Linked DNA regions of Homo sapiens: region 1 is reported to be linked to region 2. The links are microRNA targets in miRTarBase. Many come from high-throughput screens and were not tested one by one. Region 2 holds a microRNA gene; the other region holds the end of a gene's coding sequence.

What was found. Region 2 holds the annotated microRNA hsa-miR-6071 (UUCUGCUGCCGGCCAAGGC, at 1,429-1,447, shown strand). A microRNA usually pairs through its seed, bases 2 to 8, with sites in the 3' UTR of a target mRNA and lowers its output. Matches are read on the target gene's strand: a 7mer-m8 pairs with bases 2 to 8, a 7mer-A1 pairs with bases 2 to 7 and ends in A, and an 8mer does both.
Region 1: the mRNA of BPNT1 is a reported target of hsa-miR-6071. Seed matches in the 3' UTR shown: 7mer-A1 at 3,302-3,308.

Annotation. Positions count from the first base shown.
Region 1 is chr1:220,055,339-220,059,338 of GRCh38, forward strand. It overlaps BPNT1 (3'(2'), 5'-bisphosphate nucleotidase 1), which reads right to left. Exons shown (of 9, transcript NM_006085.6): 9 at 2,144-3,654. The coding sequence ends at 3,506. Among named protein-coding and RNA genes, the nearest start is that of EPRS1, 11 kb to the left of the region's middle.
Region 2 is chr2:85,780,628-85,785,103 of GRCh38, reverse strand. MIR6071 (microRNA 6071) reads left to right here and starts at 1,427; the gene lies at 1,427-1,504. The region is part of intron 2 of ATOH8 (atonal bHLH transcription factor 8); the gene reads right to left.

The DNA.
Region 1 (4,000 bases), not on the chromosome of region 2:
GCTCACACCTGTAATCCCAGCACTTTGGGAGGCTGAGGAAGGTGGATCACCTGAGGTCAGGAGTTCAAGACCAGCCTGGCCAACATGGTGAAACCCCTGTCTCTACTAAAGATACAAAAAATTAGCCAGGTGTGGTGGTGTGCCCCTGCTACTCGGGAGGCTGAAGCAGGAGAACCACTTGAACCCGGGAGGCAGAGGTTGTAGTGAGCTGAAATCATGCCATTGCACTCCAGCCTGGGTGACAGAGTGAGACTCCATCTCAAAAAAAAAAAAAAAAAAAAAAAAGTTATTATCTTAGGGCTGGGCGCAGTGGCTCACACCTATAATCCCAACACTTTGGGAGGCCAAGGCAGGCGGATCACCTGAGGTCAGGAGTTCGAGACCAGCCTGGCCAACATGGTGAAACCCCATCTTTACTAAAAATACAAAAATTACCTGGGCGTGGTGGCACATGCCTGTAATCCCAGCTACTCAGGAGGCTGAGGCAGGAGAATCGCTTGAACCCGTGAGGCGGAGGCTGCAGTGAGCCAAGATTGCGCCCCTGCACTCCAGCCTGGCGACAGAGCGAGACTCCGTCTCAAGAAATATATAAATAAATAAAAATAAAGTTATTCTCTTGTTACACTTAGATTTTTTAAAAATTAGGTTTAGTCCACTATTTACAGATAGAGAACTCCATTCGTAGAGGGAAGCAGGTGGATTCAGGTGATGATTTTCTAACTTGGCCAATTATCAAGATCACCTCATGGGTTTGTAAAATAATTTCTGGAGGGGTCGGGGCAAGAGTGAAGAACTGTTTAGACATAATCATTCAGACATCTCTGTAAGGCATCTAGGTAGGTTTTGGGGTATATAGATCTAGAGTTTGAGAGTTCTAAGCTAAAGATTTTGGATTAATGAGCAAAAGCGCCACAAAAGTCACACAGGTGGATTAGATCCTCTGGTGAGAAAGGAGAGAAAGCATAGTCCAGGTGCAGTGGCTCACACCTATAATCCCAGCACATTGGGAGACAGAGGCAGGAGGATTGCTTGAGGCTAGGAGTTCAAGACCAGCCTGGGCTGTATAGCAAGACCCCATCTCTACCAAAAAAAGAAAAAAAAGAAAGGAGAGAGACTAGAACAGAATCTTGGTAAACAGTGACATTTAAGGGAAGGAAGACAAAGAGAAAGCAATAAAGGAGACTGAGTAGGAGTGGCTAGGTGAAAAAAGAAAGCCAGGACAATGAGAAGAGACTTACAGGAGGGAGGGCTCAAAGGTGTCAAGACCACAGAGACCTCTTCCTGCTAGATTATGACACTTCTATAAAATAATACTATATTACCTTATCTAGTGAGTCCTAGAGTTAAATGATTATCAGTCCCTGAATTTCTTAAAATATACAGAAGCAGGCTGAGCGTGGTGGCTCACATTTGTAATCCCAGGACTTTGGGAGGCCAAGGTGGGCAGATTATGAGGTCAGAAGATCGAGACCATCCTGGCTAACACAGCGAAACCCCGTCTCTACTAAAAATACAAAAAATTAGCCAGGGGTGGTGGCATGTGCCTGTAGTCCCAGCTACTCAGGAGGCTGAGGCAGGAGAATCGCTTGAGCCCGGGAGGTGGAGGTTGCAGTGAGCCGAGATTGCACCACTGCACTCTGGCCTGGGTGACAGAGAGTGACTCTGTCTCAAAATAAATAAATAAATAAGTAAATAAACACACACACACACACACACACACACACACACACACAAGCAAAATCGTTGGGATAAACCCTGTGAATTTTTATTTTTATTGTTTGAGACAGAGTCTCGCTTTGTTGCCCAGGCTGGAGTGCAGTGGCACGATCTCAGCTCACTGCAACCTCTGCCTCCCAGGTTCAAGTGATCCTCCTGCCTCAGCCCCCTGGTAGCTGGGATTACAGGCACACACCACCATGCCCGGCTAATTTTCGTATTTTTAGGAGAGACAGGGTTTCGCCATGTTGGCCAGGCTGGTCTCGAACTCCTGACCTCAGGCGATCCACCCGCCTCGGCCTCCCAAAGTGCTGTGATTACAGGCATGAGCCACTGCGCCTGGCCTGTGAATCTGCATTTTAAAAGAATCTTCCTAGGTGATTCTGATATGCAGTTGAGTTTGGGAACTGTTAATTTAAACCACTTGTTGATTTGAAAACAGATAATTTTAATTAAAAGCAATGGACAGAGACCTAAAAATAAAAATCTAGGTATATTAGCAGAATAATTTTAATAGTTTATGTTATAATCTCTCATTGGAAGGAATAGAAGCAAGTACTTAGCTTTCCACAATTAAGCCTTATAATGATGCCACAAGAATAAACTAATCCCCAAAGTCGAGAATGTATAATTTTCAAACACTTTTTTAAAAAGCTGGTGAATAACAAAGAGCTAGGATTAAATAATTTATTTAAAAAAAACTTTTCTCATAAATCTGTTTCATAAGCATATATAATAACATCATATATATTCTTAATTGGAGTAGAAACGTTTTTAAAATTACTGTGAAAAACAAGAGTGAGATTCCAGAAAAAATTGTGCCCTAAAGAAATCTGGTTTAGGCCAGGTGCGGTGGCTCACACCTGTAATCCCAGCACTTTGGGAGTCCGAGGCAGACAGATCACGATGTCAGGAGATCAAGACCATCCTGGCTAACACGGTGAAACACCTTCTCTACTAAAAATACAAAAAATTAGCCAGGCGTGGTGGCGGTGCCTGCAGTCCCAGCTACTCGGGAGGCTGAGGCAGGAGAATGGCATGAACCCGGGAGGCGGAGCTTGCAGTGAGCCGAGATCACGCCACTACATTCTAGCCTAGGCTACAGAGCGAGACTCCGTCTCAGGAAAAAAAAAGAGAAATCTGGTTTAGAAGATAGGAATGTTCATTGAACATTGACCTGAACTGTCAATTGGAACTAAAGCTTTTTCTCATTTCTCCACCTAAATACAGGAAAACAAATATAACATATTGAGTTTATAAGTTCTCCAGACGTCAAAATTGGTCTGGTTGATTAATCAAGTTAAATTATTTAATTCTATTTTCTATTCCTAAATATAATAACTAAATATAAATCACTGCTCAACAATGAATAAAGGTGGAACTCTAATTCTACCCAATTAATCTTAAAATGTATTATTTTGAGAACCAAGTCTTTCTCCTAGCTAAGTAAATGAAACTTTAAGTACTTTTTGGGTTTTTGTTTTTTTTTTTTCTGAGACAGGGCTTAACTCCTGTCACTCAGGCTGGAGTGCAGTGGCACGATCTCAGCTCACTGCAACCTCTGCCTTCCGGGCTCAAGAGATTCTTCTGCTTCAGCCTCTCAAGTAGCTGGGATGACAGGCGCATGACAGGATGCCCAGTTAATTTGTATTTTTGTAGAGATGGGGTCTCACGATATTGCCCAGGCTGGTCTCAAACTCCTGAGCTCAAGTGATCCACCTGCCTCGGCCTCCCAAAGTGCTGGGATTACAGGCATGAGCCACCGCGCCCGGCCAAATGAAACTTTCCTTTAAGGAACAAGTGCATTTTTAATAGATTCTGGAACTCGGCTTGCATAGTAGTCATAATTCCTCAGTGTGGCCAGGACTCCTGCAGAGTTCATATGCTTCACATCCTTGTGGTACTGAAGAACATTCCCATGGATATCGGTTAACTTGCCTATAGAAAAACATCAATCAATCAATCAAGTTAGTGGCTAATTGGATTGTGGTTTTTCTAGTTATTTTTAAGTGCCTTTTGCTTCCTTATCCAATAGTAGCCAATAAATTCTGGATGAAATAATGAGTGTCCATAAAGGTTAAGTTTTAATTCACTTGAAATTTAAGACTACAGAACAATTTTAACTAACTAAAGGATATAAAATTATTTTTTCTCTGATTAATATTAATTTTATTTAGCATTTTCTTTTCTTTTTTTTTTTTTTTTTTTTTTTTGAGATGGAGTCTTGCCCAGGCTGGAGTGCAATGGCACAATCTCAGTTACTACAACCTCGGTTCACTACAAG
Region 2 (4,476 bases):
CGGTCAGGGCAGCCTGGGGCCAGCCCCAAGCCGTCTGTTGGCTCTTAGTCCCCGCTGAAGCCACAGCTACCATCCAGGATTAAAGGAGACAGGGGTTTCTCTCACCAAGGCCTGACCTTCAATTCTCGACCTCACCCTTTTCCTGGCGTCTACACTGGACCACCACCACCTCGGTCCAAGAATCTCAGCACATACATCATCCATCCAAGGAAGTCTTATGACAACTGGGATGTAATGGGAAGAACACTAGGAGGCCTCAGGTGCCAGGACTTTCTCTGCAATTCAGCAGCTGTGTGACCTTGGGTAACTCACTCTCCCGCTCTGTGCCTTCATTCCGTCACTTGTACAGTGAGGGGAGGGGAGGCAGATTAGCATTGCCCAAAAGGTGTTCTGTGAACACCAGCTAGGTGAGGCATTCCATGAGTTTGGGAAATACCACATACCTTGGTCCCACTTGGAAAGTCACTGTATGTATTAGCATGTCAAAGGCTCCGAAAAGTCCTGCAGTAAACAAATTTGTGTGGCTTTAATGACCCAGTTTCCCAACTGACTTTTTTTTTTTGAAACAGGGTCTCACTCTGTTATTTAGGCTGAGTGTAGTGGTTGCAATCATGGCTCAGCATAGCCTTGACCTTCTAGGCTCAAGCGATCCTCCAGCCTCAGCCTCCCAAGGAGCTGGGACTACAGGCATGCACCACCATGCCTGGCTAATTTTTTATTTTATTTTTTATAGAGACAAGGCCTCACTATGTTGCCCAGGCTGGTCTTGAAATCCCAGATGCAAGCAATCCCCTCGCCTCAGCCTCCCAAACTTACAGGTGTGAGCCACTGCAGCCAGCCTTCCCAACTGATTTGACCGTGTAATTGCTACTGCATTGTGAGGAGCAGAAACTCACTTCAACCCTCCAGGAAAGGGAAGCTCACTTAAAGTTACAAAAGGGCATTTCACAGAGACCAGGGGGAAGGTCTCAGGATAGGTAGCAAAGGGCTTGCAAAGGTCAGCAGGGGCAGTCTGTGGCCCTGCCCTCTAGACGCCTGCTAATAACAGCCACTTGCAGGTATCCGCCTTCCTCCCTGACTACTGACTGGCCTGGTCTCCCAGCATGCCAATCCCCAAGACCCAGTGGAGGACGCCCATTGGTCTAGCCTAGGTCTGATTTATTCCCCTGGACCAATCAGCTCTGGCCGAGGGATAGAAGACAAAGATGCCAATGATACCTCTTCATAAGTGGCTGTGTGTGGGGGGCGGGGGGTGCATGTGGGGGTGCATAATTGCAAATATGGAGAATAGCAAGCATCCGCGCTGTGACCACCACACCACAGAACCCCTTTCATGGAAAGCCTGGCAACATCCTGTGTCCCATGTGAGGGGCACAGTGCGAGAGGCTTACATTCCCCGCAGCACTGGCCCTTTGTGGGTTTTTGTGTTTCTGCTGCCGGCCAAGGCTCTGGGTCCGGCTTACTCCCTAGCTTACTGTCCTCAGAACCCCCGCCACCACAGAAGATGCCCTTTATTTTATTTATTTATTTTTTTTGAGACGGAGTTTCACTCTTGTTGCCCAGGCTGGAGCGCAATGGCACGATCTCGGCTCACTGCAACCTCCGCCTCCCAGGTTCAAGTGATTCTCCTGCCTCAGCCTCCCGAGTAGCTGGGATTACAGGCGTGCGCCACCACACCCGGCTAATTTTTTGTATTTTTAGTAGAGACGGGGTTTCACCATGGCCAGGCTGGTCTTGAACTTCCAACCTCAGATGATCCACCCTCCTTGGCCTCCCAGAGTGCTGGGATTATAGGCCTGAGCCACCGTGCCCATCCGAAGATGTCCTTTAAACAACAGGTTCTGCTGCTAAGATTAACCTTGAGAATGACTAGATGAGGAGGCCTCACAGGTCCCTCTCAGCTGCTCTGACGTGCTGAATCAGAGCAAGGTGATTTGGTCAGTGTGGCAAAGTGGGAGCATTTATCACAAGCAGAAATCATCTTTTTATCTGTTCACTTGTTTATAGTCAGAATGCCAGCTCCACGAGGGCAGGGACGTGGCCTGTTTTGTTTGCTGTTGTAGCTCCAATGCCCAAAACAGTATCTAACACACAGCAGTATCTCAGTAAATGCTGGGCCAGGCGTCACGCCTGTAATCCCAGCACTTTGGGAGGCCAAAGCAGGAGGATCTGTTGAGGTCAGGAGTTCGAGACCAGTCTGGCCAACATGGCAAAACCCCATCTCTACTAAAAATACAAAAATTAGCTGGGTGTGGTGGCGCATGCTTGTAATCCCAGCTACTTGAGAGGCTGAGGTGGGAGGATCTCTTGAACCCAGGAGGCAAAGGTTGCAGTGAGCTGAGATTATGCCACTGCACTCCAACCTGGGTGTCAGAGGGAGACTCTGGAGACTCTGTCTCAAAACAACAACAACAACAACAACAAATAAATACTGGTTGACTCAATCATAGCTACTTTTGGTCACAGGCATTTTACTCACTGTGGCTTTATATATTGCAAGATGTTTCTCCTACTTCAAATGTAACATTGAGCATTTTTGTAAATGGGTCTATCTATACTTTCAGGGAAGTTGTGGTAATTGTTATGAACCCTGGAACAATTTAGCAACCTTTATGCTTTTGTTCGTTTCCAGTTTAAAAAAAAAAAATTCTAATTGTTTTCCTATCCTGATCACTTCTGTGCACTGCAGGGTAATTTTACCACTTTGGGGCATTTAAAAAAATGATTTTATCTGCCTTTAAGTTATTTTACCTTTTACATTTATTGTCAGTCTATGATGCCCACTTTACCTACTTAACCATTTTCCACTATTTCAAATTATACATTTTTTGTATTTAAGCAATTTTGATACAGCCTTCTACATGCAGGGAGGAATAAACCTCCAATGGGGTTGAAATCCTGACTTTTTTTTTAAATTGGTCTTTCCTAAAAAGGGCAGATTTCAAATGTTATTTTAAAACTAAAAGGTGAAAAAAAGAGCAGATATGGCATGGGAGGAGAGTTTTTCAAAAACCACAGTATTAGTTTGCCTTTCACTGTTAAGTACACCAGTATGTGGGCTAGAAATGGGGCTTCGTGTTTGCCTCTGAATGCTGCTCTTGATTCTTACTGGGGTTCATCTTGGCCCCAGAGTCAGCTGGGGGGCCCTGAGCAGGATACTTAACCTCTCCAAGCCTCAGTTTCCTCATCTTTTTTATTTTTATTTTTATTTATTTTTTATTTTTTTTAGACAGAGTCTTGCTCTGTTGCCCAGGTTGAAATGCAGTGGTGCAAACAAGGCTCACTGCCACCTCAGCCTCCCAAGCTCAGGTGATTCTCCCCAATCAGCCTCCTGTATACCTGGGACCACAGGCTCATGCCACCACACCTGGCTAGTTTTTTTTTATCTTTTGTAGAGACGGAGTCTCACTTTGTTGCCCAGGCTGGTCTCAAACTTAAGGGCTCAAGCGATCCTCCAACCTCAGCCTCCCAAAGTGCTAGGATTACAGATGTGAGCCACCATCCTGGTCAGTTTCCTCATCTTTATTTATTTATTTTTCAGTCAGAGTCTTACTCTGCCACCCAGGCTGGAGTACAGTGGCGTGATCTTGGCTCACGGTAACTTTGCCTCTTGGGTTCAAATGATTCTCCAGTCTCAGCCTCCCGAGTAGCTAGGATTACAAGCGTATGTAATCACACCCGGTTAATTTTTGTATTTTTAGTAGAGACGGGGTTTCACCATGTTGGCCAGGCTAGTCTTGAACTCCTGACCTCAAGTGATCCGCCCACCTCAGCCTCCCAAAGTGCTCTGCCTCAAAAAAAAGAAAAAGAAAATACAGAAGAGTGAACAGAAAGAAAATTGTTTCAATCACCTTAATCTCTCCACGGAGAGCAAACCACTGATAACATTTGGTTAACTATTGTCCCATATGCTATTCCCATGCATATGCGTACTCACATACAGTATTTTACGAAAAGTGGAATTACGCTGTACAAGCTGCATCATAAGCTGCACTGGTGTTTTCTTTAACACTCAAGCCTGGACATCCTTGCGTTTGACAGATCTGCTTTCACATCTTCTCCAAGGGACAGACTTTGCAGAGGTTATTCTGGGCACAGGCGCAAAGCCTGGGCTTCTGGCCTCCAAGCTCCCCAGGGACCTGGAAGCAAGTATGGACCAGTCGGCCTCCAGCACCTCCTGCCTGCCTGGCCTGGGTGCCATGGGTGACAGGCAGGAAATTTATGAGCAGTTGGAATTGGCTGCTATTTGCGGGGGGCGGGAACATGGCATGAATCGAGGATAGTGCTGTGTCCGGGCTTGGAGGGCCCTTCAAGGTCCCGAGTGTCTAAGAGTTTCAGTTATGGCCAGAGCCTTTAGTGAGCCAGGACAGTTGGCCTGGGGACCAAGAATGGGGAGAAAAAGTCATTTATTCAACAAAGATGCATTAGTTCCTAATAGGGGCCAGTCCTGTCCCAGGCACTGCGGCAGCTTACAGT